6 linked regions of the Homo sapiens genome follow. The protein of the gene in region 5 interacts with the protein of the main gene of each other region in a pairwise test. Each region holds a gene or a part of one and is shown on either strand. Other genes may lie near its edges. The genes, in order: PEAK1, ANKS1A, E2F2, NPHP1, BCAR1 and EFS.

What was found.
Region 1: the proteins of BCAR1 (region 5) and PEAK1 interact in binary tests that used the Homo sapiens proteins (3 or more experiments, as listed by UniProt).
Region 2: the proteins of BCAR1 (region 5) and ANKS1A interact in a two-hybrid assay, tested with the Homo sapiens proteins (one large-scale study listed by BioGRID).
Region 3: the proteins of BCAR1 (region 5) and E2F2 interact in a two-hybrid assay, tested with the Homo sapiens proteins (one large-scale study listed by BioGRID and IntAct).
Region 4: the proteins of BCAR1 (region 5) and NPHP1 interact in a two-hybrid assay, tested with the Homo sapiens proteins (2 studies listed by BioGRID).
Region 6: the proteins of BCAR1 (region 5) and EFS interact in a two-hybrid assay, tested with the Homo sapiens proteins (one large-scale study listed by BioGRID and IntAct).

What each region holds. Positions count from the first base shown.
Region 1 is NC_000015.10:77,412,447-77,417,651, forward strand, and holds part of PEAK1 (inactive tyrosine-protein kinase PEAK1), read right to left. Parts: intron 1-5,205. UniProt on the Homo sapiens protein: Probable catalytically inactive kinase. Scaffolding protein that regulates the cytoskeleton to control cell spreading and migration by modulating focal adhesion dynamics. Acts as a scaffold for mediating EGFR signaling.
Region 2 is NC_000006.12:35,081,255-35,086,459, reverse strand, and holds part of ANKS1A (ankyrin repeat and SAM domain-containing protein 1A), read right to left. Parts: intron 3,770-5,205; coding exon 3,644-3,769; intron 3,306-3,643; coding exon 3,234-3,305; intron 3,044-3,233; coding exon 2,957-3,043; intron 2,343-2,956; coding exon of another isoform or gene 2,340-2,342; coding exon 2,202-2,339; intron 695-2,201; coding exon 524-694; intron 1-523. UniProt on the Homo sapiens protein: Regulator of different signaling pathways. Regulates EPHA8 receptor tyrosine kinase signaling to control cell migration and neurite retraction.
Region 3 is NC_000001.11:23,507,234-23,512,438, forward strand, and holds part of E2F2 (transcription factor E2F2), read right to left. Parts: intron 2,916-5,205; coding exon 2,647-2,915; 3' UTR 1-2,646. UniProt on the Homo sapiens protein: Transcription activator that binds DNA cooperatively with DP proteins through the E2 recognition site, 5'-TTTC[CG]CGC-3' found in the promoter region of a number of genes whose products are involved in cell cycle regulation or in DNA replication.
Region 4 is NC_000002.12:110,194,015-110,199,219, forward strand, and holds part of NPHP1 (nephrocystin-1), read right to left. Parts: intron 1-5,205. UniProt on the Homo sapiens protein: Together with BCAR1 it may play a role in the control of epithelial cell polarity. Involved in the organization of apical junctions in kidney cells together with NPHP4 and RPGRIP1L/NPHP8. Does not seem to be strictly required for ciliogenesis.
Region 5 is NC_000016.10:75,237,546-75,242,750, forward strand, and holds part of BCAR1 (breast cancer anti-estrogen resistance protein 1), read right to left. Parts: coding exon 4,925-5,205; intron 1,116-4,924; exon of another isoform or gene 549-1,115; coding exon of another isoform or gene 546-548; intron 1-545. UniProt on the Homo sapiens protein: Docking protein which plays a central coordinating role for tyrosine kinase-based signaling related to cell adhesion. Implicated in induction of cell migration and cell branching. Involved in the BCAR3-mediated inhibition of TGFB signaling.
Region 6 is NC_000014.9:23,358,268-23,363,105, forward strand, and holds part of EFS (embryonal Fyn-associated substrate), read right to left. Parts: intron 2,567-4,838; coding exon 2,288-2,566; intron 2,015-2,287; coding exon 1,874-2,014; intron 1,773-1,873; coding exon 1,050-1,772; intron 699-1,049; coding exon 609-698; intron 1-608. UniProt on the Homo sapiens protein: Docking protein which plays a central coordinating role for tyrosine-kinase-based signaling related to cell adhesion. May serve as an activator of SRC and a downstream effector. Interacts with the SH3 domain of FYN and with CRK, SRC, and YES.

The sequences.
Region 1 (5,205 bases), on a different chromosome or scaffold from region 5:
ACCTTGGAGTGATCCATTACTCTTTTCTTTTCACATTCTACAACCAATCCATCAGTAAATCTATCTGTATCAAAACATATCCAGTTAGAGTCACAGACAATCAGTATATTTATATTTTTATATACAGAAATACAGATTTTTACATAATTGTACATGGATACGTGGATTAGTATACATACATGCATTTCCTAGTTCTTTCCACTGAGAAAGTCTAGGAGCAATGATACTCCACAGCAATGAGCACACTTAGCATCCAGATCTTGGCTTCAAAATATCATCCTCCAATGAAAGGAACCAAGGTTCCTTAGAGAAATAATTGATTCTAGGGCTGAGGTAGGAAAAAAAAACAAGATGAACCTGAAGCATGTGGTAGTGTCAGAGAATAAAGAAGTGTGCATGTACATACGCATAAAAAAAGGATAGAAATATGCCAAAAAGACACAGAAGTAGACCTAAAAGAGATCCCAAGGGCCAAAACTGGAATAATTTGAGCAACAAAATAATGATAGCATTTAATTCTAACACTAAGAATAAAATAAATATCTATGAATTTGAACTGAGATAAATGATTAGATAGAAGGGAAAACCTTCCTTATAGAAGAATTCTAATTAATAAATGTAGAAAGAATGAGGAAAATTTAAAAAAGTACCTTCAGAAGCCACAGCAATAATTGCTGCAGGCAAGATCCACTAATGAATGCTAAAATTAGTGGGCAGAAACAGGATACTGGCAAAGCCTCAAAGTAGCTCTCTCAAAATATTTACCAATTACTGTGGTGGTTTTAATATATGTCCACAAATTCTTTTATACTTCTCCCTCCAGGAAGTGGAGTTTAATTTCCATCCCTTTAAGTGTGGGCTACACTTAGCAACCTGTTTCTAGTGCACGGACTATGGGAAAGGAAAAATAGTAACTTTACAGTGGACAAACCTAGCAGAAACCACCGTAACAGAGTGCTCACAAGTGATAAATTATTTGATATCATGCACCTCCTGTATGAAATAATAGGGGCACTTCACCTTTGCAGTACTCTCCCCCAAAATCCATAACCCCAATCTAATCATGAGAAAACATCAGACAAACCTAAACTGAAGAACATTCTACAAAATACTTGTGTCAAGGTTATAAAAGATAAGAAAAGACCAAGAAACTGCCACACATTGGGAGAGACAAAGAAGACAACTAAAGCAATGCAATATCAAGGTTTGGATAACAGAATGGAAAAAGAATACTAGAAAAACTGGTAAAATATTAAAGCAGTTTGAAGCTTGGTTGAAGCATCGTACCAATACTAATTTCTTAGCTTGATAAATGCACCATGGTTATGTAGGATGTTAACATTAGAGGAACCCAGGTGAAGAGTATATAGCAGCAGTTTTTCTGTTTGTTTCTTTGAGACAGGGTCTTACTCTGTTGCCCAGACTGGGGTGCAGTGGTGCAATCATGGCTCACTACAGCCTCTACCATCCAGGCTCAAGTGATCCTCTGACCTCAGCCTCCTAAGTAGCTAGGCCCACAGGCACATGCCACCACACCCGGCTAATTTATTATAGTTTTTAGAGATGAGGCCTCCCTATGTCGCCTAGGCTGGTCTTAAACTCCTGGGCTCAGACGATCTTCCCACTTCAGCCTCCCATAGTACTGGGATTACAGGAATAAGCCACCACACCCAGCCTGCATTTTCTTTCTTTTCTTTCTTTCCTTCCTTCCTTCTTTCTCTTTCCTTCCTTTCCTTCTGTCTTTCCTTCCTTCTTTCCTTCTTTTTTTTTTTTTTTTTTTTGAGACAGGGTCTTGCTCTGTCACCCAGGCTGGAGTGCAGTGGCACAATCACAGTTCACTGCAGATTGAACCTCCCAGGCTCAAGTGATCCTCCCACCTCAGCCTCCTGAGTAGGTGGGACTACAGGTGTGCACCACCATGCCTAGCTAATTTTTTGTATTTTTTTTTTTTTTTTGTAAGCGACGGGGTTTCACCATTTTGCCCAGGCTGATCTTAATGTCCTGACCTCAACCCACCTTGGCCTCCCAAAGTGCTGGGACTACAGGTATGACCCACTATGCCAGGCCCAATTACTGTATTTTCTATCTTATCCTCTGACTTGAAACGAACATGGTTTGGACAAGAAAGAATGGGCTTTGAATCCTGGTTCCATCACTTGACAGGGTGTGTCTGAATATGTTATTTAACCTTTCTAATCCTCAGTTTCTTCATCTGAAGGAGAACAAAGGAAATAATATAAGGTAAATAACAAAATTGTTGAGTTAGTGTTAGGATCAGAATTAGGTATTAAAGTGTCTAGCACATAGGAGGTACTCCACAAATAGAAGCTAGTATTATTTGCTCTTCATTTGCTCTACAGCTTCACACTGACTTCTAGCATTTCATGCTCCTCATTTTCTCCCAACTGGATCACCTCCTTACAGGCTTCCAGCTCATAATCCAGGAGGACTCCATAGTTCTTCAGTAGAGCTACAATACTCAATATCATTAATTCCCTCAACCAACTGTCCTTCAGATATCTCTACCAAACAGATATCTACAAAGCAGCAGATAACAGCCTGGGCAGAATTTAAACCCAAGCTGTTCATCTTACAAACAAGGAGAGTAACAGTAACAATACATAACTCATAAGGTTCTTGAGAGTATTAAATAGTTTCTTCAGATAGTCTGATCACTCACTGCTGGAGAAAAATCAACCACGAAAATTGGTACTGCTACAAATGTGAGGTCTACAATCTGAAATAAACAGGTCCTCAATGCTAACTAACAATCCTTCTTCAGTTTCCTAGTCATGTAACTAACAATCCTTCTTCAGTTTCCTAGTCATGTGTCTGTTTACCTCTCTCTCCCTTACCTCCACCCCATCCACTGTTAGCCATTCCCTTGGAAGCCGTTTACAAAGAGTATGTATAAACTACAGACTATCTTTTTTTCCATTCCTTTCACAGGGGTGGATTAATTTTACCTGGCTTTTTTGTTTGTGTGTGTGTTTTTTAAGAGATAGGGTCTCATTATGTTGCCCAGGCTGGCCTTCAACTTCTGGGTTCAAGCGATCCTCCTGCCCCAGCCTACTGAGTAGATGGGACTACAGGCACATGCCACAGCACTTGGCCTCACATACATTGTTTAAAAACTCCTATTCTACCACGTTCCCTTCACTCTTAGCAGATGATCAAAAATTACACAAGACATGTCATCAACTCTTCCTTCCTGCCCTGTCAGTTACAAACTTATTTACATTGCCATCCATCTCCTTCCTTTCTGCTCACTGGAAAAGTGAGACTACCTTCTACTTAAGACCAACTTCTCTGCCTACGCCCTGGATCCCATTCCTTATTACCTTCAAATCCTTGTCTCCATCCACCAGCCAGTCTCCCACGCCCACCAAACACACACATATACACTCTTCTTCAGTTTCTCCTCTCCAGTGGCTCTTTCCAGGCTCACATTAAGAATGTCCAAGATTCTCTAAATCCCAAGTATCTCCCCCTGCTTAAAGACTCCTTCAGAGTCCTTTGTTGAAAACATTGTACCCCTCTCAATTAGCTACACTTACAGTTGTCATTCACTTTTCAACACCCACCCCCATGCATTACAATGTAGCTAAGTGCTCTAGCTGAAGTTATAAAAGACATCCTAATCACCAAGTCTCAGAGACTTCATTAGGTCTTTATCTTACTTTTCCTTTTGGAGGCAGGATACAGTGTTGACCACTCCTAGCCCTTGAAATAATATTCTCCCTCAGCTTCCATGACAAATCTCTATTTCCTTTTTTCATCTTTGGTCTGTCTGGCACAGATGGTTGGCTTCTCTTCAGCTGCTTGCCCAATCTACTCAGCGGATCACAACAGAAATGTAGGAATCATCCAAAATCTTCAATCTTGCTCAATTCTATAATCTAAATAGATTTATCCTGTCCCGTTAATAATACTTCCTAAATCTCTCATAGAGCCACTCCCTCTTCTACACTCTTCATCATTTCTCACCAGGAATAGCTTCCTAACTGGTCCTTGCTTCCAGTTTTGTCCCTCTCTAATTCAATATTCACTTCACTGTCAAAATGACAGGTCTAAAATACAAATCTGATTCTACCACAGCATAATTTTTTTTCCCCACTAAATCCCCGCAACTTTTGGAATTAAGTTAAAGTTATTAACTTGGTTCACAAGACAATCATTGATTTGGCTTATTACTTCATCCACCCCTGTTCTAAAGCTGTGCTGCTGCTGTCCACTCACCTGCAGCTATTGAGTATGTGAATGTAGTTGTCCAAATTGAGATGTGCTATAAGTGTAAATTACACACCAGATTCTGAAAACAGTAGAAAATTATGCACCAGATTCTGAAGACAGTATGAAAATGGAAATGTCATATTTCAATATTACTTTTTATACTGAATGCATGTTGAAATGATATTTTGGATATACTGAGTTTATATTATTAAAATTAATTTCACTTTTTACTTTTTAAAATTTGGTTACTAGAAAATTTTAAATTGTATATGTAACATATTTGTGGCTTGTATTAAATTTTATAGGACAGCACTGGTATAAGATGTACTTTCCCTCTTTCTGGACCTAGTTAACTCTTACCTATTATTGAAGATTAGCTCAGGTAACACTCTAAGATGCATTCTAGACACCCTCCACCCATCCCCCGAAGTCTGAGTCAGCTACCCCTCCTCTGTGCTTCCATCCATAGGAATGTGTGCATGCCCCTGTCATACTATAATTATTGGTTATCACCTATCTTCTCCTCCTCAACTGTAAACTCCTTGCAAAAAGGAATCTCATATTCTATAATACTCAGGTCCTACCTACCACCATGCCTGGCACTTAAAAGGTACTCAAACATTTGTCAAACAAATGTAAACTATCTATTCCTGGCCTGAAGGTTACTAGGATTTCTACTTCACTAAGGAAAACAAACCAGCCTTGAGGGAACCTAGAAAGTACCAGGAGCTTTAGTAATGAAAGGACTAGGAAGGAGAGTGGGGTGGGGGGATGCGGGGCGGGGGGGGAGGGGGGCAAGAGGTAGGAATCACAGTAAAGAGATCAGCAAATGACAGAATAACGCTCATCACACACATCTGCCTCTTACACTGAAAACAGGGATTTGCAACACTGATATGGAGCCTTGTACTCACACTTGGCATGCCAGGGGCCACAGTTTGGTTACTAAATTACTTAAACAACCCATCCAAC
Region 2 (5,205 bases), on a different chromosome or scaffold from region 5:
ACACAGGCAGAGGGAGAGGCCGCCAGAGGCTAAGAGCGCTCACGGTCACTTCGGGGAGACTGACACACAAGACAGCAGGAGGCGTAAAGACCTTGACTCCAGGACTAACAGATGGCAGCGGTAGGTAGGAAGGACGGTGGGTGGTGCAGGTGTGACAGTAACAACAGCGACTATCGGGGGGCAGCGGCACCTGGGGTGCAGAGCAAAGCAGACACAGACACAGGGATGGCGCAGTTACTGGGGGCTGCCTGCAGGCCGCTCTCTGCAGCCCCTTGACGGCCTTGCCCTTGGGGGAGCCCAGCGAGGGAGGGAAACAGGAGCATGAGAGGCCCGCCCAGGCCAGAGGAGCTGCTGCCTTTCCAGGGGCGAGACCTGGCAGGGTTGGGGGACAATTAAGAGGGTCATTTCCCTGGAGGGCCAGCTTTCTGGAAGTGCCAGAAGACCCTCCTCACGCTGACCACCCTGAGCCCTTGAATCCCTGGGGCCAGGGAGAGGGGGATCTTGGCCAGTGGGGCCCACGTACTGCGGATTTCCTCACGCCGACCCGAGGCTTAGGCACCGGTTTGGAAGATTTTGTTTCAATCATCTCAGCTGCAGAGGCGCCCGTCGCCCTGGACTTCTGGGCCTGCAGGGCCAACTGATAGGCCACTTCGAAGGCCTGCCCCAGCGTCAGGATGATCTCGTAGGTCAGGTTCTGGGAGGAAGCAGATCACCACTTAAGCACCTGGTTCAGGAGCCGCTTCACACTGGATATGCCCTTCCTCGCAGGGACCATGTGTCCCCCTCTAAGTCTACCCGGGAGCGCTCCTACCTCCTTCCACTCTTCCCTCCTTTCCCTCCTTTACTCTTCCTAGGTCTCTGTTGTTCTTCCCGCTCTACACAGGATGTGGCCGGGAGCTGGGCTGCGGGGAGGGCAGGTGCACACTGCTGTAAGCCTACGGCAGGTCTTTTCCAAGGCAGGGTGCCGTGCCTGCAGCAGTACTTGGGTATTTCTTACCATTTAATGTAAGTGGTGCTAGTGCTTTTATTTTTAATGTGTCACCGACAAAGTCTGTGAGTGCTGTGCCCCTAACTCCATTTCCCCATAAACCCTGTGGTTTTCCTTGTGTGATTTTACACAGCACAGTGATTGTTAGGAGCGTATGTGTGGCGTTACAGCAGAACTGAGTGTATGTGGGAAAAGTCAGCAACAGGTAAATGCCACTGACTGTGCTGTGTGGACCACCTCATCCATCTCACAGTGGCCCCTGAGGTGGGCCACATTATATCCCCTCCAGACAGATGAGGAAGCAGGCAGATGCGATGTTTCCAAGCTCACACAGCCAGCAAGCAGCAAAGCCTGGTTCCTCCTAACCTTCACTGGCCCAGAGCAAACAGAGGACTGGGGTGGATGAGGTCCCAGGAGTGTGGGGATGCCCAGAGCTGCCTGTATTCCAGGAGCCACAGAGATTCTGGAAGCAGCTGCTATCCCTGAGGGCGGCAGAGACCTGGACCCCTCTGACTTCCTCCCGGGGTGAGGAAGCAGCCTGGGGCCACTCTCATGCTTTGTTGCAGGTTAGAGGGAACCCCCGCCTGTGGGCTGTCAGTTCTGGTCTGCTCCCTGTGGGCAGCTGTGTGAGAATGAACTCTCCTCGGCCCAGTGGCATCCAGAGCCGAGCCTCAGCAGGAATTTGAGGGAAGAAAATCTGCCAAAGAGGGCACCACTGCCCCTAAGAGGGAAGTAGAGGGCATTTCTGGGAGGCGGCCCAGCCAGAGGTTGGAGACCTAGGGCAGGGAGCCGGGGGAAACAAAGGCCTTGCCTGACCTAAGAAAACACTCGCCAAAAAGCTGGAAAGTCAGGGGCGGTGGCTCACGCCTATTATCCAGTTACGTGGGAGGCTGAGGTGGGTAACTTGCCTGAACCCAGGAGTGCAAGGCAAGCCTGGGCAACATAGTGAGACTCCATCTCTTAAAAAAAAAAAAAAAAAGCTGGAACCTCCTGTCCCTAGTGCCCTGGGCCAGTCCCTGTTCCCTCTGCGCGTCAGTCTCATCACTGTGAAAGGGGACCGGCCTGAGTGCTGCTGGGCTCCATTCATGAACCAAACATTTGCCAGGCACTGGCCAGGGGCCAGGACAGCGCCGCATCTGTGCCCTGCAATGGGGCTGGACGCCTCAGGGCTGCAACCCAAGCCTGCCCCACCCGGCCCCAGGACCCCACCCACCACATCCACGGTGCTGAACACATGGCAATAGTGGTGGCTGGTCTGCAGGTCCTTGGTGATGTAGGCAAAGGTACAGAGGTCCTCCGGGTCCTGGGCCGCACAGGAAATGTTCCGGATCTCGTGCTCTGCAATGACGTTCTGCTGGGGAAAGCCGTGTTCTGGAATTCTCAGGCTCAGGCATGCCTCTGGCACCCCCTGCCCCAGCCTGTTACCATTGTCACTGTTCTCTGTCCCAGCCTAGAGCATCAAGCAAACCCCCCTTCATCTTCTCATTTTGTTTATTGGTGGGGGTGGGGGTCCCCGATTTTGGTTTGGGGTCTCCACCCCTTACCACAACAACTAAGGCAGTAAAATGTTCACACCCAACCACAAGCTCTCCCCAGCCCCTCCCACCTTCCAGGGTGGGGGCAAAGTGGGAAGGGTGTCAGGAAGGTGGGATCCCACACGGTGGCACACAGAGAAAGTCCTTTGCTCACGGAGGGAATCACACCTGTGAGCAGGTGTGCGGCCAGTGGAGCCCAGGTGGCGAGGCTAACAGCAGTGATCACTAGGGCGGGGACGGGGCTGACAGCAGGCACCCAGGCCAGCAGATGAGAGACACGCCTCTTAGCAAAGTGGGAAGTAATAAGAGGACTGGGGACCCTCTAGGGAGATAAGAGATGAGACAGGGCAGCCGGGTTGCTTGCCCTGGAGCCCTGTGGGTCTGACGGGGATGTGGGTCCCACTCCCACCAAGAGTCCCTGTAAGCAGCACACCTTGTTGGAGGCATCGATGAACTTGACACCTTTGTATGTGATGGACAGGATGATGGTGGGGATCTTCTTCATGTGCTCCGTAGATTTCTACAGGAAACAAGGGGTGGCCCTGTCAGTGCCCCTTCTCAGGGCTAAGCCTCCTGGGCTTCCACAGGTCCCAGCTTCCTTCCCATCCTTACATAGTGCAGCAGGGCCCAGGCAACTGCAGCTACTGCCCCCATTGCTGCCTTCTGCTGGCCAGTCCCACAGCGCCCTCCAGCCCACACAGGCACCCTACCCGCATCTTGGCACAGGCGTCTTGCGTGGATTCTGTCCCTCGCAGATCTTTGATCAGCATGGAGCCCAGATACTGTGGGGGCGAGCAGTGGCCAGGCTTAGGAAATCCTGCGTTTCCATGCAGGGGTGACCCAACCAATTTGGGACTGTCCCACAATCAAGTAGTTACCCCTCTCAATAACAACACCCCCTCTCCTGCCCCAGCTGGAGAGACCCTCCATTCAACTCCCTAGCTAAAGGATCCAGAGGCCTCCACCCCTTCGCCTTAGCTGTCAAGAGTGGCTGAGAGTGGAGAACAGCTCAAAAGCCCTGGGCCTGGCTTTGTGGAGTCCCTGCTGGGACTTGGCCGCAGGTGCCTGGCCGAGAAGGAGCAGGGAGGCCGGCCCTGCTGGGAGGGTGGGAGCAACTCACATTGGCTTCATAACCACAGGACTCGAAGATGAGTTTCTCTGGCTGGTGTTGCCAACTCTGCACTGGGGCGTAGGGGGCTGCCAGGCTCGGGGGCCGCAGGGTCAGCTTGGCCTCACGGTGCTCCTCCTGCGAAACACACGCAATTGGACACCTGCTCCTTGCTCCAGAGGAGCACATGGGCTTGCTGCCTGGCTCCAGCACACTCAAGGGTGAAGATGCCAGTGACCTTAGCAAGTTCAAGGGTCGAGTGGAGATGGCAGGGGGCAGACCAGCAATTCAAACACACTGCGGGAGAGGGGAGGTGCTAGCCACAGCAGAGGCACAGCAGGGACCCAAACCGCCTGAGAGCAGGGCTTGGGAAGGACAGTCTCTGTGGTGTCCGAGATGAGTCTCAAAGGAGATGGGAAATGACCAGAGAGGAGATGGCAGAGTCTGTGTGGGGGGCACAGGCTGCCAGGCTGTTCTGCACAAAGACCAAAGGAGAGAACAGCGCCCACGAGACCCTGGGACGCCTTGGGACCCAGCCCAGGGCCTGGGAGGGATCTTCACAGCGGGGAAGCCAGTGAAGCACCCGCCCGTGCCTAGGAATGCATTCCAAATGGATCCTTCTGGCAGCAGCTAGGGGGTGGGGGAGGCCACTGCGGTCCAGGTGAGAGATCATGGGTCCCTGTCCAGGGCACTGGTGGAAGGAATGGAGAGGAAGGAAAAGATTCAGGAAACACGGAGGCCCTCCCTTCCCAGCAGTGCGCAGAGCCTCTCAACAGCAACCGGAATTGCTGGACAATGTGTTTAAAAATCCTTTAAAACTCATGGCTGTGCTTGTAGAAAGGGAAAGGAAGTCCCCAGAGCCAGAAGTGAGAAGTGAGAGTCAGAGAAACAAGCAGGGGTGAAGCTGAAGTTCACCCGGAGGGGCCTGAGGGACACCTGCTAATCCTGTGTCTGACAGGCCAAGAAGAGGACAAAGGACAAAGCCAAGGTCCGTACAAGGAGGGAGGCAGGACAGGCAGGTCCTGAGTAAATCCAGGACCCCTGGAAATGATGCCCTGAGAAGGTGAGCCAGGAGTGTGAGACGGGCCCACCTCCGCCAGGGCTGGAGCGGGCACCGGGAGCGGAGGAGGCGTCTCCAGCGGTGCCCCCCACGGGGCTGCAGGCAGAGAACAGGAAGAACAGAATCTGGTCTGGCTGTGGTTTTGCTGAGCAGGAGGAAGAGAATGCTGCCGAGGTGAAGCTGCAGGGAAAGCAGTTCTGGGGAACAACGTGGGTAAGCAGAGAAGGAAGGGGCCAAGAAGGAGCTCAGAGGCCAGGAGAGCACAGAGGGCTCTGGGGCCAGCAGGGGAGGCAGTGCAGGACGCAAGAGGCCACAGAGAAAGAGCGGACAGGGGATCTGAACCCCTGAGGGAGGGAAGTACAGGACACAGGAGTGGCCCCAGCAGCTGACAGCTAAAGTGAGTTGTGCGGCCCGAGCTCGGCACCATGGGTGCTGGGTGGGCCTTACGCAAGGCGGCTGGGTGTGGGCGAGCAGAGCAGGCTAGTGCCTCCTGACTCTGGTGCCAGCCCAACTG
Region 3 (5,205 bases), on a different chromosome or scaffold from region 5:
CAGGCTGGGCCTGGTGGCTCGTGCCTGTCATCTCAACACTTTGGGAGGCCGAGGTGGTGGATCACTTGAGGTCAGGAGTTCAAGACCAGCCTGACTAACATGGCAAAACCCCGTCTCGACCAAAAATACAAAATTAGCCGGGCGTGGTGGTGCATGTCTATAGTCCCAGCTACTCTGGAGGCTGAGGCAGAAGAATCGCTTGAACCTGGGAGGCAGAGGTTGCAGTGAGCCGAGATCAGGCCACTGCACTCCAGCCTGGGCAACAGAGCGAGACTCCATCTCAAAAAAAAAAAAAAAGAAGAAAAAAAGAAAAGAAAATACCACTCAAAATGTGTCCTGAAGCACTCTGTGGAAGTCGGGAGGCTTCAAGTGTCACTGGCAAGACGGGGGCATGAGCTTGTGTCCTGCACTGAATCTGAGGCTTAGCCTGGGAGGTCTAGCCCCTTGGCCAGGCAAGGTGTGAAAGGGACAGTAGAGGGGGACAGAGGCAGCTGCTGAGCACACGGGGCACAAGCCTGAAGGCAGCTCCCCTGACCAGCCATATGGAGAGGCCTCTAGGGCATGAGCTTACATTCCAGACTTCAGTATTAAACTCATTCCCAATGGGTCCTGCAGGCCCCTTCTTCCTTTTCTCTGATGTAATTCTTGGGGAAAGCTCCAGAGCCCAAGGAATGGGAGTCAAACACCTCTGACTTCAGAGATGGCACATGGCTAAATGGCAGCCCAGTGGAGACCTCAGAGCAGCCCACTCACCACAAACGAGATCCTACACAGGGTCCCTGAGCATGCTGGACTTTAAGACGGGCGTCTGATAAGACCCTTGTGAGTATTTGGGTAGGAGACCAAAAGCATTTCTGCAAAGGGTACACAATTAGCCCTGCTTATAGAGTGGGGGCAGCTGTGACCCGCTGACCACTCCTGGGAGGGGGCTAACTTGGGGGCCCAGGAATTTGAGCAAATGATGAGGCACAATTGTCCCCAGCTGGGCATTAGATCACATTGGGCCCCACCCTGAAATAATCCCTCGTCTCAAACTTCAGACATCAGTCAGTCAGCTCAGGAGCCATCCAACAAAACCAACTTCATATTTTAAACCAGCTTAATGCTACAAACTTTTCTAAAAAGTGCTGTCCAGCTGAGCCTCTGAGAAAACCTAGCTCCCTGAGGGGTGGATGGCAGGCCTCTCAGACCAACCCCTGAGCCTCTCTCCAGAAGTCATAGCCTTGGTTCAGCCCAGAGCACCCACATCCCAGGGTGGGTGGGGGAGAAGAGCAGCTGAGCTGAAGGGACAATGTGGGATGATCAAGCCTCTGGGGGAACAGGCTGAAGCCAAAAGACCCCCTCAGGACCCCAGGCCTGCAGAGGTAACATGAGTTCCTCTCCCCATTAGCTGTGAAGGCCTGGTCTGCCATGAAGACCTCTCTCTGTCACCCCTTCAGTATACCTGGGAAAAAAGGAGTGAACAAGTCACCAAGCCCCAGTCACCTCTGTCCTTGGGGTCTGAGTGAGCTCTGAGGGGTGGAGTCCTTAATGAACCATCCCCTTCAATAACATGGTGAAAAAATTCCTCCCAGGGAAGCAGAGAATGATGCCAGTGCCACATGGGGGGCAGAGGGGATGCTTTTGGCAGTTTTTTGTTTTAATCTGACCCTTCTTTACAGTGGGGCTGCCTCTGCCTACCAAGTCCTTGGTGCAAAATGGCTCCTGGACCAGCGCAAGGCAGAAACTCTGAGGAAAAGTGCCCGCCACAGCCATGACAGCTGCCCCCATGCTCCTGTCTGTTTTCCACGGGAGCTTGTCTCTGCTGGACCATTTTTACATCTCAAGGGGAGAGGTAAGGACTTCCTCAGGAAAGGGGTCTCCTGAGCAGGTGGCTCCTGTTTCCACAGGAGCCTCAGTGCTACCTGCCCTAGGATGGCTCCCTGGGACCATCTCTGGGACAGAGGCGACCAGGAAGCCAAGACCGGCAGCTCAGCTGGAGATGTGAGGCCAAGAACAGGGGAAGAGGCAAAAGGGCCCACAGCTGCCGTTTACTAGAACCATGAGGCCTAAGTGCAATTAGCATTCTAGCAGACTGGACAGCCCCTCAGAGTCCCAGCCCCCACCACAGTGGGGAAACCAAGGATGTAGCCTGGGCCCCTCCCTTGGAAACCCAGACCTGCCCTGGAACATGGACAGTGATGGGCCTGTCTGCAGAGGTCTCACTAAAAACTAGAACAACCTCCCTGCTAAAACTCAGGGAGGACAAACAAACAACTCAACCTGAAATAAATACAAAGGCATTATGTGCTTCTTGGTACGTCGAGGGTCCTAATTACCCCTCAAAAGGAGGTAGCAGGGCCTTTCCCTGGACTTGGCCACCTCACCTGCAGCCTTCTTGTGAGAGGTCAGAAGTCAGAAGACTGGATGGGCCTCCCTAGGCCCAGCTTCCATTAGGAAGGTGAGGACCACCCCTTATCCACTCCTCACCCGTACCATTCATATCTCCCCACACAGCTTCTGCCGGCTGGGGCAGGAAAGGCGAGGAGACCCCATGCCCTGAGGGCAGCACCTAGTGTCCAATGTCCCTGTGCAGGCAGAGGGGCTGTCAGCCTGTCTGTGAGGAGGTAGAGTCGGGGGCAGGCTGCTGGGGGCAGGCAGGGCCACTCAATTAATCAACAGGTCCCCAAGGTCGTAGGAGTCGAAGAGATCGCTGATGCCCTCACCCGCCTCCAAGCCCCACAGGTAGTCGTCCTGGTCCAAGGATGGGGAGAAGCTGATCAGAGGGGAGCTGCACGCCAGGGTCGGGGACAGGAACTGGTCCTCAGTCTGCTGCAGGAGTGGGTGCGGCAGCTCCAGCAGGCTGTCAGTAGCCTCCAAGGGGACCAGGGATGGAGGCGGTGGGGCCTGCTGGGGGGTTGGCGCTGGTGCTGGCACTGGAGACAAACAGACAAAGGTTACGCCTGGCCCTAGCATCCAACTCCTCAGCACGCGAGGACAGACTTCCGGTTCTCTGGATGACTGCACCCTTCTTCTCTCTCCTTAGCCTGGGTGGACTGTCGTGCTCTCAAAATCCACCTTCCAGAGTCTACACCCAACCCTACAACTTTTCATGTATTTTTTATTTTTTTGAGACCGGGTCTCACTCTATCACCCAGGCTAGAGTGCAGTGTTGTGATCTTGGTTCACTGCAACCTCTGCCTCCCAGGTTCAAGCGATTCTCCCACCTGAGCCTCCCGAGTAGCTGGACTACAGGCATGCACCACCACACCCAGCTAATTTGTGTATTTTTAGTAGAGATGGGGTTTCACCATGTTGGCCAGGCTGGTCTCGAACTCCTGACCTCAAGTGATCGGCCTTCCAAAGTGTTGGGATTACAGGCCTGAGCCACTGTGCCCGGCCAAAAAGGAAAGAAATTCTGACACATGCTACAACATAGATGAACCCTGAGGACATTAAACTATGTGAAATAAGCCAATCACAAAAAAACAAATACTGTGTGATTCCACTTACATTAGATACTTAGTCAAAATCGCAGGGACAGAGAGTAGAAGGGTGGTTGTCAGGGGCTGGGCAGAGAGGGGAATGGGGAATAGGTACAGAGTTTCAGTTTTACAAGGTGAAAGGAGTTATGGAGATGAATGGTGATGGTTACACAACATTATGAATGTATTAATTACCACTGAACTGTACATTTAAAAATAGTTATGATGGTAAATTTTTGTTATGTTGCCTCTACTCTCCACCACACACAACTATACCTGACCTCATCACCCTCTCCAATTACTGGCCCATTTTTCTGCTCCTTTGCACAGTAAACTTTCTCCAGAGTAGCCTCAGCTTGTCTCCACTTCCCTATTACTATTCTCTCTTCAACTCACTCCAGTCTGGGGTCTCTCCCCACCATGTCCCTGAGCCAGTGACATCCATGCTGCTAAACCCAATGGTCATTTCTCTGGCTTCATCTTATTTGACCTTTCAGTAGCCATTCTCCAGCACTCTATGCTCATTTCTTTCTCGCCGCCTTCTTTTTTTTTTTTTGAAACAGGGTCTTGCCCAAGCTAGAGTACAGAGTGCAGTAGGGTGAACACGGCTCACTGCAGCCTCAACCTTCTGGGCTCAAGCAATCCTCTCGCCTCAGCCTCCTGAGTAGCTGGGACCACTGGTGCGTGCCACCATGCCCATCCAATTTTTAAACTTTTTTGTAGAGACAGGGTCTCACTCTGTTGCCCAGGCTGGTCTCGAACTCCCAGGCTCGAGCAATCCTCCTGCCTCAGCCTCCCAAAGTGCTGGGATTACAGACATGAGCCACCACACCCAACCTGCTCATTTCCACTTAGATGTTAAGACGGTGATTTCCCATACAGGGACATGCAATGAAGCACTGGAAATTGCCTGCCACATATATCCTGATGCTCAGAATCCCCCACATTGCAGTCACTCCTTAAGCCCCAGCCAAGTATTATTCTGAAGATACAACTGCGCTGGGATGCTAGGCTGCCTGTTGAGACTGGTGGTGCACCCATAGGCATGTGATTTCACATTTTATTTATTTATTTAATTTATTTTGAGATGGAGTCTTGCTCTGGACTTCACGTTTTAGAGCATCCATTTTCTCCCCTCTGCATGGGGCAGCATAGCACTACCTACCTCAAAGGGTTGCTCAGAGGACCGCATGGTAAGTGCATATGAAGCACTGGTTTGGCCTGGTGCGGTGGCTCATGCCTATAATACCAGCACTTTGGGAGGGCGAGGCAGGCAGATCACCTGAGGTCAGGAGTTCGAGACCAGCCTGGCCAACATGGTGAAACACCGTCTCTACTAAAAATACAGAAATTCGCTGGGTATGGTGGCAGGCATCTGTAATCCCAGTTAATAGGGAGGCTGAGGAAGGAGAATCATTGGAACCCAGGAGGTGGAGGTTGTAGTGAGGCAAGATCACGCCACTGCACTCCAGCCTGGGCAACAAGAGCGAGACTCGTGTCTCAAAATAAAAATAAATAAATAAACAAACAAATAAATAAATAAGCACTGGTTTGTCGGGTCTGCATGCTGCCCTTGCTCCTGTTAAAAATTGCTCCCATTTACCAAGGCTAATGGGGGAGGTGGTGGCACTGCCCTTGAGGCGAGGCGTGGTTCAGCCTCCTTGCACACTCAAATGGCCCTGAGGGAGTCCATGCTGTTACCCCTATTTACAGATGAGAAAACTAGGGCCCAAAGAAGTCC
Region 4 (5,205 bases), on a different chromosome or scaffold from region 5:
GAGGGAAATTTATAGCACTAAATGCCCACAAGAGAAAGCAGGAAAGAAATAAAATTGACACCCTAATATCACAATTAAAAGAACTGGAGAACCAAGAGCAAACACATTCAAAAGCTAGCAGAAGGCAAGAAATAACTAAGATCAGAGCAGAACTGAAGGAGATAGAGACAAAAAAACCCTTCAAAAAATTAATGAATCCAGGAGCTGGTTTTTTGAAAAGATCAACAAAATTGATAAACCGCTAGCAAGACTAATAAAGAAGAAAAGAGAGAAGAATCAAATAGATGCAATAAAAAATGATAAAGGGGATATCACCACCGATCCCACAGAAATACCAACTACCATCAGAGAATACTATAAACACCTCTATGCAAATAAACTAGAAAATCTAGAAGAAATGGATAAATTCCTCGACAAATACACCCTCCCAAGACTAAACCAGGAAGAAGCTGAATCTCTGAATAGACCAATAACAGGCTCTGAAATTGAGGCAATAATTAATAGCTTACCAACCAAAAAAAGTCCAGGACCAGATGGATTCACAGCCAAATTCTACCAGAGGTACAAGGAGGAGCTGGTACCATTCCTTCTGAAACTATTCCAATCAATAGAAAAAGAGGGAATCCTCCCTAACTCATTTTATGATGCCAGCATCATCCTGATACCAAAGCCTGGCAGAGACACAACAAAAAAAGAGAATTTTAGACCAGTATCCCTGATGAACCTCGATGCAAAAATCCTCAATAAAATACTGGCAAACCAAATCCAGCAGCACATCAAAAAGCCTATCCACCATGATCAAGTGGGCTTCATCCCTGGGATGCAAGGCTGGTTCAACATACGCAAGTCAATAAACGTAATCCAGCATATAAACAGAACCAACGACAAAAACCACATGATTATCTCAATAGATGCAGAAAAGGCCTTTGACAAAATTTAACAACCCTTTATGCTAAAAACTCTCAAGAAATTAGGTATTGATGGGACGTATCTCAAAATAATAACAGCTATCTAAGACAAACCCACAGCCAATATCATACTGAATGGGCAAAAACTGGAAGCATTCCCTTTGAAAACTGGCACAAGACAGGGATGCCCTCTCTCACCACTCCTATTCAACATAGTGTTGGAAGTTCTGGCCAGGGCAATCAGGCAGGAGAAGGAAATAAAGGGTATTCAATTAGGAAAAGAGGAAGTCAAATTGTCCCTGTTTGCAGATGACATGATTGTATATCTAGAAAACCCCATCGTCTCAGCCTATAATCTCCTTAAGCTGATAGGCAACTTCAGCAAAGTCTCAGGATACAAAGTCAATGTGCAAAAATCACAAGCATTCTTATATACCAATAACAGACAGAGAGCCAAATCATGACTGAACTCCCATTCACAATTGCTACAAAGAGAATAAAATACCTAGAAATCCAACTTACAAGGGATGTGAAGGTCCTCTTCAAGGAGAACTACAAACCACTGCTCAATGAAATAAAAGAGGATACAAACAAATGGAAGAACATTCCATGCTCATGGGTAGGAAGTATCAATATCGTGAAAATGACCATACTGCCCAAGGTAATTTATAGATTCAATGCCATCCCCATCAAGCTACCAATGACTTTCTTTACAGAATTGGAAAAAACTACTTTAAGTTCATATGGAACCAAAAAAGAGCCCACATTACCAAGTCAATCCTAAGCCAAAAGAACAAAGCTGGAGGCATCACGCTACCTAACTTCAAACTGTACTACAAGGCTACAGTAACCAAAACAGCATGGTACTGGTACCAAAACAGAGATATAGACCTATGGAATAGAACAGAGCCCTCAGAAATAATGCCATATATCTGCAACTATCTGATCTTTGACAAACCTGACAAAAACAAGAAATGGGGAAATGATTCCCTATTTAATAAATGGTGCTGGGAAAACCGGCTAGCCATATGTAGAAAGTTGAAACTGGATGCCTTCCTTACACCTTATACAAAAATTAATTCAAGATGGATTAAAGACTTAAATGTTGGACCTAAAACCATAAAAACCCTAGAAGAAAACCTAGGCATTACCATTCAGGACATAGGCATGGGCAAGGACGTCATGTCTAAAACACCAAAAGCAATGGCAACAAAAGCCAAAATTGACAAATGGGATCTAATTAAACTAAAGAGCTTCTGCACAGCAAAAGAAACTACCATCAGAGTGAACAGGCAACCTACAGAATGGGAGAAAATTGTTGCAATCTACTCATCTGACAAAGGGCTAATATACAGAATCTACAATGAACTCAAACAAATTTACAAGAAAAAAACAAACGACGCCATCAAAAAGTGGGCAAAGGATATGAACAGACACTTCTCAAAAGAAGACATTTATGCAGCCAAAAAACACATGAAAAAATGCTCATCATCACTGGCCATCAGGGAAATGCAAATCAAAACCACAATGAGATACCATCTCACACCAGTTAGAATGGCGATCATTAAAAAGTCAGGAAACAACAAGTGCTGGAGAGGATGTGGAGAAATAGGAAACTTTTACACTGTTGGTGGGACTGTAAACTAGTTCAACCATTGTGGAAGTCAGTGTGGCGATTCCTCAGGAATCTAGAACTAGAAATACCATTTGACCCAACTGTCCCATTACTGGGTATATACCCAAAGGATTATAAATCATGCTGCTATAAAGACCCATGCACACATATGTTTATTGTGGCACTATTCACAATAGCAAAGACTTGGAACCAACCCAAATGTCCAACAATGATAGACTGGATTAAGAAAATGTGGCACATATACACCATGGAATACTATGCAGCCATAAAAAATGATGAGTTCATGTCCTTTGAAGGGACATGGATGAAGCTGGAAACCATCATACTGAGCAAATTATCACAAGGACAGAAAACCAAACACTGCATGTTCTCATAGAATACTGTGCAGCCATAAAAAGGAACAAAATCATGTCCTTTGGAGGGACATGGTTACAGTTGGAAGTCATTATCCTCAGCAAACTAATGCAGGAACAGAAAACCAAACTCCGCATGTTCTCACTTATAAGTGGGAGCTGAATGATGAGAACACATGGACACAAGGAGGGTAACAACATACACTGGGGCCTGTAGGAAGGAGGTATTAGAGGAGGGAGAGCATCAGGAAGAATAATTAATGGATGCAGGGCTTAATACCTAGGTGATGGGATGATCTGTCCAGTAAACCAGTATGGCACACGTTTACCTATGTAACAAACCTGCACAATGCCATACATGTATCCCTGAACTTAAAGAAAAAAATAAAAAACAGTAATAAATAAAAAACGTTTTAAAGGGAACAAAAGTCCTTTGTCAAAAGGGTAGCAAAAGAGAAGGGGAAACATCAAACTGGGGCTGACCCTACTAGCAACCTCCCCAAAAGCCCCTTTCCCACCCTTCCTCTTTGCTGGCAGTCAGCTTCCCACTGGCACCTATGTTCTCAGCCTCCACTGCAGGCAGGGTGAGCAGGGGGCCCACGGCTGCCAGTGTAACATAAAACACGTATATTGGGATTGCCTCCCATTTTATCCTCCCTTACCAGGCATGAAAAGAATCTCTCCTACATCTGCTCTTAGATACTGAGGGTATGGACTTTGTAACCATGAGGAGAGACATCACCAACAAGCAAAGGATGGCAGAGTGGAATGACATCAAAGGCTGGTCTTTGAGGATATCACAAGCCATGAATCCACCCTGAGAGAACCTAGCTGCAGGCTTTTGTCAAATGAGACTGACAGTAAAGCCGCTTATTTTGGCAGGTGTCATGTTACTTGACCAAAAAAATCTCTACTGAAACTTAGACTCAGAAATTTCGCTTAAAGCCCAGAGTGGAAAACTATTTTAATATAATGTACCAAGAAAATAAATTACTTATTACAATTACCTCCTTTATAACTATGTAATTATTAAAATCCTCAAACAGTTGATATTTTAAGACTCCTGGTTCAGGATAAAAACTAAGCACACATTCATCTTCACTGGCTCCTGAAACCCCACAAAAAATGATTAAAACGTTTGAAAAGGTAACAAACTCTGAACACTGCAAAGAAGGAAAGAAGGACAACTAGCCAGCAAGAGATTTCAACAAATTTCTGCTCCATGGAAAAAGGCTGGAAGCATGTTCTCCTATAAAGGGTGGAAGACGCAACACAAGCATAAGAGGGAGATAATCTGCCAGGCCGAAAACTCTAGGACTTGAGTCAGCAGACATAAAGGACCAAAGGTTAACTAAACTAAATCATAGAGGGACACATTATGAAATTCTGCTGATGAAAAGACATGCACAGTGGCTGGGGTTTACTTTATAAATTATCTAATATTATTGTGTTATATTGTGTAAATTAAATCATATGCATACATCTAAGCTTTGAGGAGGGAAATCAATGTTAAAGCAATCTAAGGTCTTTATATTAGTCAAGGGAAGATTAATGATACTGATTACGTTTAGATTTAGTTGGGGTTCTTTCTTTTAAAAGTCTATTTACAGAAAACCTGAGCCAGTTAGCTCCCTTTTCCCCTCTCTGCTCTCCCTCCTTACCAGGGGATTCTTCCCTAAAAACAAAAAAACAAACAAAAACAATTAACAAACGACCTGAAGAGAATCATGACTGCTAAAGAAGTTTCCCATACACCAGGGTTAGAGCCGGCCCTATTCTGGCACTGGGGGATCCTCAGACTAAAAGCTACTTCCGAGCCTCTGATAAGCCCTATCAACATACAAAATTTCATTCTTATTCAGGGGATGGTACTAGCAGGAAGGACCCCTCTCTATCTAACAGTAGAAAAGCCCATGAGAGCTCTCTGGAATAATCAACCTAGTCCCTCATTGTTCAATAAAAATAGATAAGCCAGACCTAATAAAGAAAACCGGCAACGTGAAGATAAAATTTAAGAATAACCAAATATAAATTAATTAATTAACTAATTAAAAGGAATCTGAGCCCAGAGAAAGCAAAGACAATTCAGAGAACAGAAGAGAACTTAAGGAGAAAAAAAAAGCCTCCTAGTCATGGAAGTAGTAAGAAGGCAATCAATATGAAAACAGGAACATGATGCTATGAAAAAAGAACAATTCGAGAACAAGAGAAAACACTTGTAAATTAACAACATGACTGATGATGGCCAGGCACGGTGGCTCACGTAATCCCAGCACTTTGGGAGGCCATGATGGGTGGATCACCTGAA
Region 5 (5,205 bases):
AACTCTGGGTTTTATTCAGAGCTGCCTCGTCCTGGGCCAGGACACCAACGTCTCTACAGCCTGCTGACCCAGAAGGCTCCACAGAGGAGCATGGGTATGAGCTGATGACACCGGTGGGGTGAGGGGCTGAGGCCCTGGCTCTGGAGGGCACTACCCACAGGCAAGGAACCCCCCGTTACTGGGGCGCCTAGCCCCACAGGACAAGAGGCCACGTCGGAGGCCTGGGAGTCTGCTGCCCACACCACCTAGCTGTAGCCTCCTCAGAAGGGTTGGCCCAGCAGGGGACTGCATCCGGCCCAGGACCAGATAGAGCCTAGCACCCCCTGCCCCACAGCACAGCATGGGGAGACTCTGGAGGACAGGGCCAGAGGGGCAGGTTGGGTGTGTGCTGGGGGGCGCAGCAGCTGGGACCAAGGCCCCCTCCCTGCCGCGCCTGCCCCGGGGGAGCTGCCTGCAGCAGGTAAGATCCCCAGCGACCTGAAAGGATGAGGCCTAGTGGGGGAAGTGGGTCCAGGGCCAGCCCTCCCCTCCCCAGGTGCTCTTACCATGACCCAGAGCCCAGGGAAGCCAAGGCCCGCACAGTGGGTGAAGAGGCAGGCAGCACAATGGCCTGCCCAGGGCCACAGGACCCCTCACCAGCACCAGCCTGAAGCGGGTAGGGGCCATGCCAGGCAGCCTCCTTCCCTGAAGGTCTCCCTGCCTTGGGGAGGTCAAGGCCTCCCTGGTGGGATTCTCCAGCCCCCGGGCACACTGCGCCCACACGCCTCCACCACCAGGCTCCCTGTTCAGCTCTCTCCACTGAAAGACCTTTTGTTCCTTCATCAAAGGGGATGTCTGGGACAGGGTTGACTCAGGGCCTCCCCGCACATCCCCCAGGGCAGCAGCGCCAAAGCAGCCCCTCCCCCGGGCCCAGTGCCCCTGAACCCCTAGAGGCCCTCCCAATGCAGGCAGGCAGCCAGCCCTGCTTGCTGAGGGTGCTGTGAGGGGGGCGCTGAGCATGGGGGTGGCAGAGGCGCCAGCACCCCCCAGCAGCCGCAGGCCTGGCAGAGCCCCCCGCAGCGCAGCAGAACTGGGCCCACTAGGTCTCCAGCACGCCTGGTAGCAGAGTCCCGGCTGGGGGCCTCCGTGGGGTGTCCCCGCCCCCTTCCAGTGCGTCTGGGAGTGGATTTGGCGGCTGCCTCTCCAGACTCATCTCCCTCCACGCGCCCCAGACTTGAGTCTCCTCCAGAACTATTTTTAGATGCAGGGACCTGCCAACAGCGGGGCAGGCGGGGCGGAGGGACGTGGCAGGTTGGCTGGGCCTCGAGGCACGGCCTGAGGCTTCTCCAGGCCTCCCAGCCTCCCAAAGGCAGGTGGGGACCCAGCCTCAAGGCTCAGCCAGGACCCAGCACCAGCAGGAGGGATGAGCATCCTCCAAAAGCACCCTGCCGGTGGCCATCCCAACCTCACGCGGTGAGGCCCAGGGGTGCAGCTGGACCCAGGCCTGCCTCCCCAGGCAAATGGCCGCCTGCCACTCTTGGAGCTGAGTCGGGTGGCAGTAGGCAGCCACAGTGACCAAATGTTTCTGTTAGAAAAACAGAGCAACGCAGCCACCAGGGGGAAAAGCTCTTTAGGGGAATGACTCAGCCCCACTGCTAATCACAGGCCACCCTGCTGCACACCTGAGACCCCACTAGCAGGCCGTGGAGGTCCCCCGGGGGTTAGGGGAACACAGCCAGAGCCCAGGAGGAGAGAACAGAGGCACAGTCACTGACATAAGACCCACACGGTCTCTGACACACATGCCTCATACAATGCAGAGAAAACACAGCACAGGCCCACTGCCAGGTGCACGCACAGAACCCAGGCAGCCCCAGGGCCAGGGTGCCGCCCCTCTCCTCCCCTACTATCAGGCATCAAGCGGGGGGACAAGCGAACTCAGGAATACATCCCAGCCTCCCGGTAAGGGCCCCAGAGGCAGGTGTCAGGTCGGAGGAAGGGGACAAAGTGGGCCCCCGCCCTGGAGCTCAGTGGCTGGTCTCCCCCTTCTGCAAAATGGGTGTCGCCCCTGACCTGGGTTGGCTCCCGGCTCTGGCACCCCCAGGTCCCAATCCAGGAGCCTCGTTTCCTCCTTGGGAAATGGAGCACCACAGGAGCGCTGCGACCACGGCCACCAGGACACACCCCAGCATGAGGGGCTCACCCGACCTGGGTCATGGTGGCCTGAGGGGCCACCACCATAGCCCGCTCCCCTCCCTCCCCAGCTCCAGGCACCCCAGCCTGAGGTCCCAGCACAGGGGAGCCTGGGGCAAGATGAAGCTTCTAGGGCGAGGAGGGTGAAACACAGGCCCGACAGGACCACGTGCACGCCTGACCTCACGCCATGGCTGTCTCCTTAGACACTGACCAGGGGCACTACCTGAGCGACCTCCCACAGACGCCTTCCCCCGGGGGTCCCATCTGACCATGAAAGAGCCTCTGCCCTCAGATTCCTACAGCCCACACCCGGCCCAAAGAGTCTCGGTGCCAGTGTGGCCCTCACCTCTCCCTCAGCCATACGGGCCACCAGGCTCCCACCTTAGCAACCACTGGACCCTGCTCCAGGGCCCAGGGTTCTGACCCTCCTGGCCACCATCCTTGTCACTCACCCTCTTGGCTTCCTGAGAGCCAGTGTCCCTCCCGCCCACGTGAAGTCCTGGCAAGGGCTCCTTCTCAGCCCAGCCAACCACTACCCTGGAACTGGGAGACTCAGTTTCCCAGGCATTTGAGGGGCAGGCCTGAGGCTTGGAGGGGAGCACCTGGAGGTTCAGACACAGATGTCCCGCAGCCAGGTGTTACCGCCGTGCCACCGTAATGAAGGCATGAGCAATCGGAAACTGCCCAGGGCCCGCCCCAGCAGAGGGGGCAACCCAGCAAAGTCCAAGGCGGCTCAGGGACAAGCTTTAAGAATTCAACAAAATGCTTTTGATATCTAATGTTGGATTTACAACTTTGAAATGCAAAACTGCATGTATAAATCTGTGAAACACAGGGCAGATACTAGACAAAATATGCCAGAATTTCCCAGTGATTACCGCGATTGGAAAATTTCATCTCCAGACTTTCCCATACATTATGCATTTTCTACAGCAAACAAGCATTGCTTTTGTGATCATAAAATACAAGCAGACACAATCAAGACTGGGGGAGGTTTCCTGGGGGAGAGCAGCCAGGCCCAGGACACAGGGCTCTCCTTCCTGGGCCATCAGCCAGGTCAGGGCCCTTGGGGCACAGGTCTGGGCAGCTCTACCAGTGGGCATGGGCAGAGAAGGACCCAGCTGGCTGAGCCCCTGATGCAATTGAGAGCAGGCCCCCTGCCGGAGACGGAGACAGAACAGCTGCCAAAACACAGCCTCGAGGCCGGGCTCTGTCTGGGGGTCTCGCTGCTGCTCCCCAGCCCACAGGGCTTCCAGCCGCACCAGGACAAGCTTCACTGCAAAGGCGGGAGAGGAGGGGTGGGGATGTGCCTGACCTTGGGGCATGTGCAGTGTGGACTGTGTGTGCGTGTGCATACGCACATACATTTGTACGTTTGTGGGATACTGGTGGGTGCACACGCTTTGTATGTGTGGACGTACACGTGTCTGTGTGTGGGGTGAGTATGCACGTGTGTTTACACATATGGGGTTTGGGTGTGTGCGTGTTCATGCATATGATGTGCGCATGTGTGGGCGTATACGTGTGTCCATTTATGGGGTATGGGATGCAGATATGTGCATGTATTCACGCACATTCATGTAGCGCATGTGTGTGTTCGTGCATATGGTGTGTGCATGGGTGTTCGTATCTGTGGGGTACAGGCATCATGCACGTGTGTTCATCTGTGTGGGGTGTGGGTATACCTGGACTGTGGCCTGAGGCTCCCCTACAGGACACTGCTCCCTGCCGCCTCCCCAGGGGATAACAGGACCCTGCTCCTCTTGCTAAAGCCAGTTTGGGAGCACCCCCACCCAGGCACCCCACGCCAGCCAGGCTCGCCTCTGACCAGATGGCTGAAGGAGCAGGTAGAGCAGGAAGTGGGAGCCAGTGACCCAGGTTCCCCTGGTGGCCAGGCTTGGTGGCCCATGTCCATGGAGTCCCCCACCCGCCAACGACCTCCGGCCATGCCTCCTGGGTACCAGGCCACCCATGGGCGGGGGTGGGGGTAACTCCCAGCTGACTCGCTGCCCAGCTGGCACCAATGAGGTCTCCACCTCAGCCCTGGGCTGAGTGTCTAGTGCTGACTCCTTCCTACAGGCAGGTGAGCTTGGGAGGCAGGGGCCCTGTGGACTTGGGAAGCGGGCTCAGGGTCTGGAGGCCAGAGGTCTTGTCCCCAGGCCCAGCATCCCATCAGCAAGAGCCCAGGAGGCTCTCAGGGCAGTCCTCCTCTAGCAATCTCAGGGGCAGCGTCCTCCCAGGAGTCACATCCAGATCACCATACGCACCCGCTGGCCCCTAGCATGTTCCATAAGTGGAGAGGGGTTGGCCTGTGGAGGCAGGGGCGGCCAGAAGATGTGCCGGAACCCCATCTAGAGGCTGACACGTAAACCCAGATGGCACAGGGGAGCCTGAGCATGAAGTGGCTGGCCTCTCCCTTGCGGGGGCCCAGCAACTGCCGACCCCATGTGCCAAGCCCCGCCTGCCCACTGGAACGCCTCAACAGGCTGCTCCCTGTGGTTGGTGACACCACCACTCGGGTCGGCTTGGCTGAGGCCAGCGGAGCATCTCCCCTCTGGGTCCATTCACATCCATCTTCCCCGGACAAATGAACACCCCCCAAACACTCACTTCCCACTTTGACCCCAGACCAAACACACAGCCACTCCTGGAATGCCGGTGATTGAGGGTGGCTGGACCCTTCTGTGCCCACAAACCAGGGCCTGGGCTATACCTGTGTGGCTGCACAACTGTGCCAGGACAGCCTTACCTTTGCCGGGGGCTTCGTGCCCTCCCAGCTGCGTGTGTCCATGGACGGGGGGACCTGGTAGATGTCATGCCCCATCCCGGCAGAAGGTGGCACCTGGTAAATATCCTGGGCAGGGCCTCCAGGCCCTGGGGGCACCTGGTACAGGTCTGTGGCCGGGCTGGGAAACGGGTGATGGGGTGTCTGCTTCGAGAAGGTGGATGTCTGCTTGGCTGGGGGAGACTGGAACTGAGGGCTGGGACCCGGGACTTGGTAGAGGCCTTGCTGAGCCTTGCTGGGAGTGG
Region 6 (4,838 bases), on a different chromosome or scaffold from region 5:
TAATATACAGAAAGGGCTTAGCAAAGTGCATTTCACACTGTGAGCACCAGATGAGTGTTAACTGTGGCTGTGATTAATACTAACACGTGCAGTGTGCCTAGCACAGGGTCTGGCACTTGGTAAATACCTGATAAATGGTAGCTATTGTGTTGCGACCATTCTACGCAGGGTTGAGGAAACCACCTCACTTTCTGAGGCCTGGAGAGATTAACTGACGGCTTCAAAGCCCCTGGCTTCTCAGTAGTGAAGCTGGGATTAGAAGCCAGGTCTCTTAGGAGCCCAGGAATTCACAGTTGGAAGGAGGCTCAGAAGTCCCCAGGCCCAGCTCTGACCCCACAACTCAGAAACTTTCTGCTCTCCTGGCTGCTTGATTTTCTGACTCCTCTCCAACACATTCTTTCCCCTCTTTCTGAATTCCTAACATCCTCTTCCAAGGTCCAGTTCCTTCCTGTAGATTTCTAACTTGCCTCCGCTCTGTCCCTGGTTCCTGTGAACTCTCACTCCATCCTAACCTATTTCCTTCCACGGTTGATGGCTCAGTTCTTCTCCCAAGTCCCCATTCCTCCCTCCCCTGTCCCCTTCTCTAGCACCATTCCCGCCAGGGTCACCTGCGGCGCCGGCATCCCCCTCTCGGGCAGTTCAGGATCCCCTGTGCAGGCCTGATCCGGGGGCCTAGATCCCTGAGCTTTGTCCATGCCCTGCAGGAGGGGATCAGGTCTCAGTGTCGGGGTGGGGGAGCAGGACGGGGTGGCCTCTGTGGCCTTTCTGCCCCTTCCCCGGACCCCCTTCCTTCCGAAGGACACTCCTGTTATCAGAGGTTGTAGTCCCTTGACTCCAGAGAGCTCTGGTGGCCCCAGGCTGGGTCTAGGAGGAACAGTGTGGCACTGGTACAAGTGTTGTGGCCAAGTACTGGGGTCCCAGGCTGCAGGGTAGAGGGAAGGGGGACAGAAGGGAGGCAGGGAGGCTCTGCCTCTGTGCCCTAGGTCTCCACACCCCTCCCCTTGGTCCCTCTGGGGTCCCTCCTGGTGGGGCTGCCAAGGGGCGCTCACCTTCAGGTGGACATAGTCATACTCCTCGGCCATCGGAATGCCCTCGTACTCATTGTGGTGTCCTGCTGGGTCATCCTCCATCTCCCTGCCCTCTGGATCCCCCTCGACCTTGGGGCCTCCATAACCAGGCAGGCGGGGTGGGGGTGGGGGCAGAGGCCGGTCCTGGATGCTGCCCTTCCGGCCTGGGGCAGGAGAGGGCACTGGGGAGGGGCTGGGGGCCTCAGGGACAGGCAGGGCAGGCAGAGGGCGGCGGGACAGGCTCTCAGCTGAGGGGAGCCGGGGCCTGTGTGGGGGTGGGGGGCTTCTGGCCAGAAGCTGGGCCAGGGTGTCCTGGTCATGGGAGGCCAAGGCTCCAGGGGGCTCTGGAGAAGGGGGAGCCTCTGGCCCCAGCAGAGGCACATCGTAGATCCCCTCATCAGTGCCCCCGCCCTCCCCGTCTGCCAGCAGTTCCTCGGGTGCTTCATACAAATTGAGTAAGGCTGACGCTCGTTTCAGGTTGGAGGGGGCAGCATAGATGGGGGGCCCCGGCTCCCGGCCTCCTTCCCACTCCAGATCTGGTTCCAGCTCTGCAGGTGGCTTTGGGGTCAGAGGCACATCATAGGGAGCATCATCCTCTCCAGGGGGCTGCGGGGCAACCCGGGTCAGAGGGTGGGAAAAGGAGGCAGGGCAGTCATAGGGGCCACTGGAGGGCACCCGGAGGGCGGTGGGGGGCACATCGTAGACCTGCGGAAAGGAGTGGTCAGTCATCTGTCAGCTCAGCGATGAACCCTCCCTTGGGGCCATTTGTCTCCCACCCAACATACACAGGGACCTCTAGCCCTCACCTCCAAGGCATCTCTGGGAGCAGCCAGCTGGGTCCCACTAGCTCTGGGGATTTTGTAGATGAGGTCAGGAGAGGGTGGGCAAGGTCCAGCTGGAGGTCCTGAGGTTGGACAGGGCCGAGCTGGGGGCGGCACCACATACACCTGAGGGATCAAATAGATGGGGGGTCAGGAGGAACGGAGGGGCCGGTGATCAGATAATGTCTGAGTGCGAGGAGCTTAGAGACCTTCTAACTCTCCCTGTATCGAGAGGGCCACAGCTCAGAAAGGTTGGTAGACAGGTTTCGTCCAGCGCAGAGCAGTGAAGAGCTGTGGCCTCAGGGCTCTTCCTGCCCACCTGCTGCAGGCCCTGGGTGGGGCTAGTTGGGGAGGAATGGGGCTCTTCTGGCTTGGGGTTGGGGAGGCTCCCACTCTCACCTCCTGGTCCTCATTGCTGTGATCTGGGGCTGGATATGGTGAGCCAGGCTGGGCTGGGGACGCAGGAGAGAGGCTGGGCTTGGGTGCTGGGCCAGCAGGCAAGAGCTTCACCCTGTTGGCGGGCACAATGCCCTGCTGGCCGTGTAGGGAGCAGAGGCACCAGCCGTCCAGTCCACCAGCGCCCTCTCTCTGCAGGACCCGTAGGACATCCCCTCGGCGGAAGGACAGCTCCTGGGGGGACTCAGCGGTGTTGTCATACAGTGCCCGGGCCAGCTGGGTCTGGTTGGGGAGGTGGGAGTGGGGAGAAGGGTCTTCAGACCCCTTTCAGGTCACGTCACCCCTGCTTAGAACCCTTCGGAGCTCCGCATTTCCCTCAAGCTAAAAAACCTGAACTCTGGATGCAGCTTTCTGCCTGGGCCCTAGCTTCTCTCCAGCTTCACCGCTTGCATTCTCCCTCTTCCTTTCAGTTCCTTCAACTAGACCAGCTCTCCTCAGAGAGGCCGATTCTTTACTCTTCTCCCCGCCCCATTCTCTGTTTGTCTCCACCTATTGTTTCCATCCTCGTACTTTATACTATTTGTCTATTTGCTTCTTTTGTATCGATTTCTTCCCTTATACTGTAAACCCTATGAACATAGGAACGGCTATATTTCTAGTCCTTGCAATAAGGCCTGACCTGGAATTGGTCATTACACATGTTGAATGAATGTCTTCCAAAACATGTGAAGCCCTGCTACAGTCTCTCATAGACCTTCTCTCTGTTCCCAAGTCATTATCCCTCACTAGCAAAAGGTTAGATTAAGCAGCCACAGAGACCTCTCATTCTGAGAGACTGGGAGAGGCCTAGTCCAGACAGTGTGCCTAGGCATAATAAGAAAGAAAACAGAAACAAAGCAATTGTTTTGCTCTCAGTCTGAGCAAATAAGTTTCTACCAGAAGAGGCTGAGGTTACCATGGAGAAAAGTGTGTATTCTTGTGTGTGTGTCACCACTGCCTGGGATCCTTCCAGCAGGCATCATCATTTAGCAATGGGCCCTTCCATTGCAGGACAGAGTGTGTCTTTGTGTGTGTGTGTGAAGGGGGTTGGCAGGCCAACCAAAAGGAAACATGTATCATTCTGTTTCCAGTCCTGTCTGGTGGGGGCTTATAAGCTTTTTCCATCAAGGGCCACAGGCTCAGGTAATAACTCACAGGTACCAAGTGCAAACAACGTTTCCAGACACTGTGCAAATCTTTGCATTAATCAACTCATCTCATTTAATTCTCACAACAACCTTACGAGGGAGGGACTGTCATTACCCCATTTTGGAAAGAAAACTGGAAGAGGGAGGTTAGTACTTTGTCTGATGCCATATCGCTGGCACAGCTTGTGGAGCATAATCTGAACCCTAAGCTGCTTGATCCCAGAGCCTGCGCTCTCAATCACTTGTGCTACTGCTTCTCCACAATTACAAATGTAGGAATCTACTTAAAAGAAAGAGTAGTAACAGTGGCTGAGAGGGTCCCTAACTCAAAAGCAAGTCAAGCGCATAGGAAAGCCTTCTTATACCCTATTTCCCTTTGCTATAACCCTTCGCAGTGCTCTTGCTCCATGATGTCATTTGGTAGAATCAAGCTAAAACCACTCAAAACATACAATTACATTCAGCTTCAGTTTTGATTGCTAAATGATGATGCTTGCTGGTAGGATCCCAGGCAGTGGTGACTTACATGTAGTGTTGGAGAGCAGCTAGTTAGGCATTACTAGCCAGGTAGCCAAACGGACTGACTAATTCAGCAAAAAAATCTCAAAGTTAAAGATCTCAGGCAGGCTGCCACCAGACCCTGGGGAGAAGGATGCCCTGCTAGAGTCAGCAGGAGTGCATATTCCTCTTAGCTGATGTTTCCCTCTGGTGGTGAGGTTATCCGGCCTCTCATGGCTGGGTGATTTTAACAACAAATTGACCCCTCTTCTTGCCTGATTCCCAACTCATCAAACCATTTTCTGATTATATTTTGGTTTCTAAAGGATATTGTCCCACACAAAGAAACGTGCTAACCAGATGACACAAATTCCCGGTTAGTGCTGCACTTTTCTTTTTAGTTGTAAATTATAAATCAGTCTTTTGGATCTAGCCAGGGGATTAAAAGCACAGTTCTAGAGGCAGACCTGGGCTTGAGTCTTGGCTGTGTCTCTTTCTTTTAAAATTTTATTTAAAATATTTCTTTAGAGATCAGCTCTTGATCTGTGGTCCAGACTGGAGTGCAGTGGCACAATCATAACTCACTGTAACCTCGAATGCCTGGGTTCAGCCTCCTAAATACCTGGGATTACCGTTGCGACCCACTGCTTGGAGGTCTGTCCCTTTCTTTTTCTTTCTTTCTTTTTTTTTTTTTTGAGACGGAGTTTTGCTCTGTCGCCCAGGCTGGAGTGCAGTGGTGCGATCTCGGCTCACTGCAAGCTCCGCCTCCCGGGTTCACGCCATTCTCCTGCCTCAGCCTCCCGAGTAGCTGGGACTACAGGCGCCCACCACCACGCCCGGCTAATTTTTTGTATTTTTAGTAGAGGCGG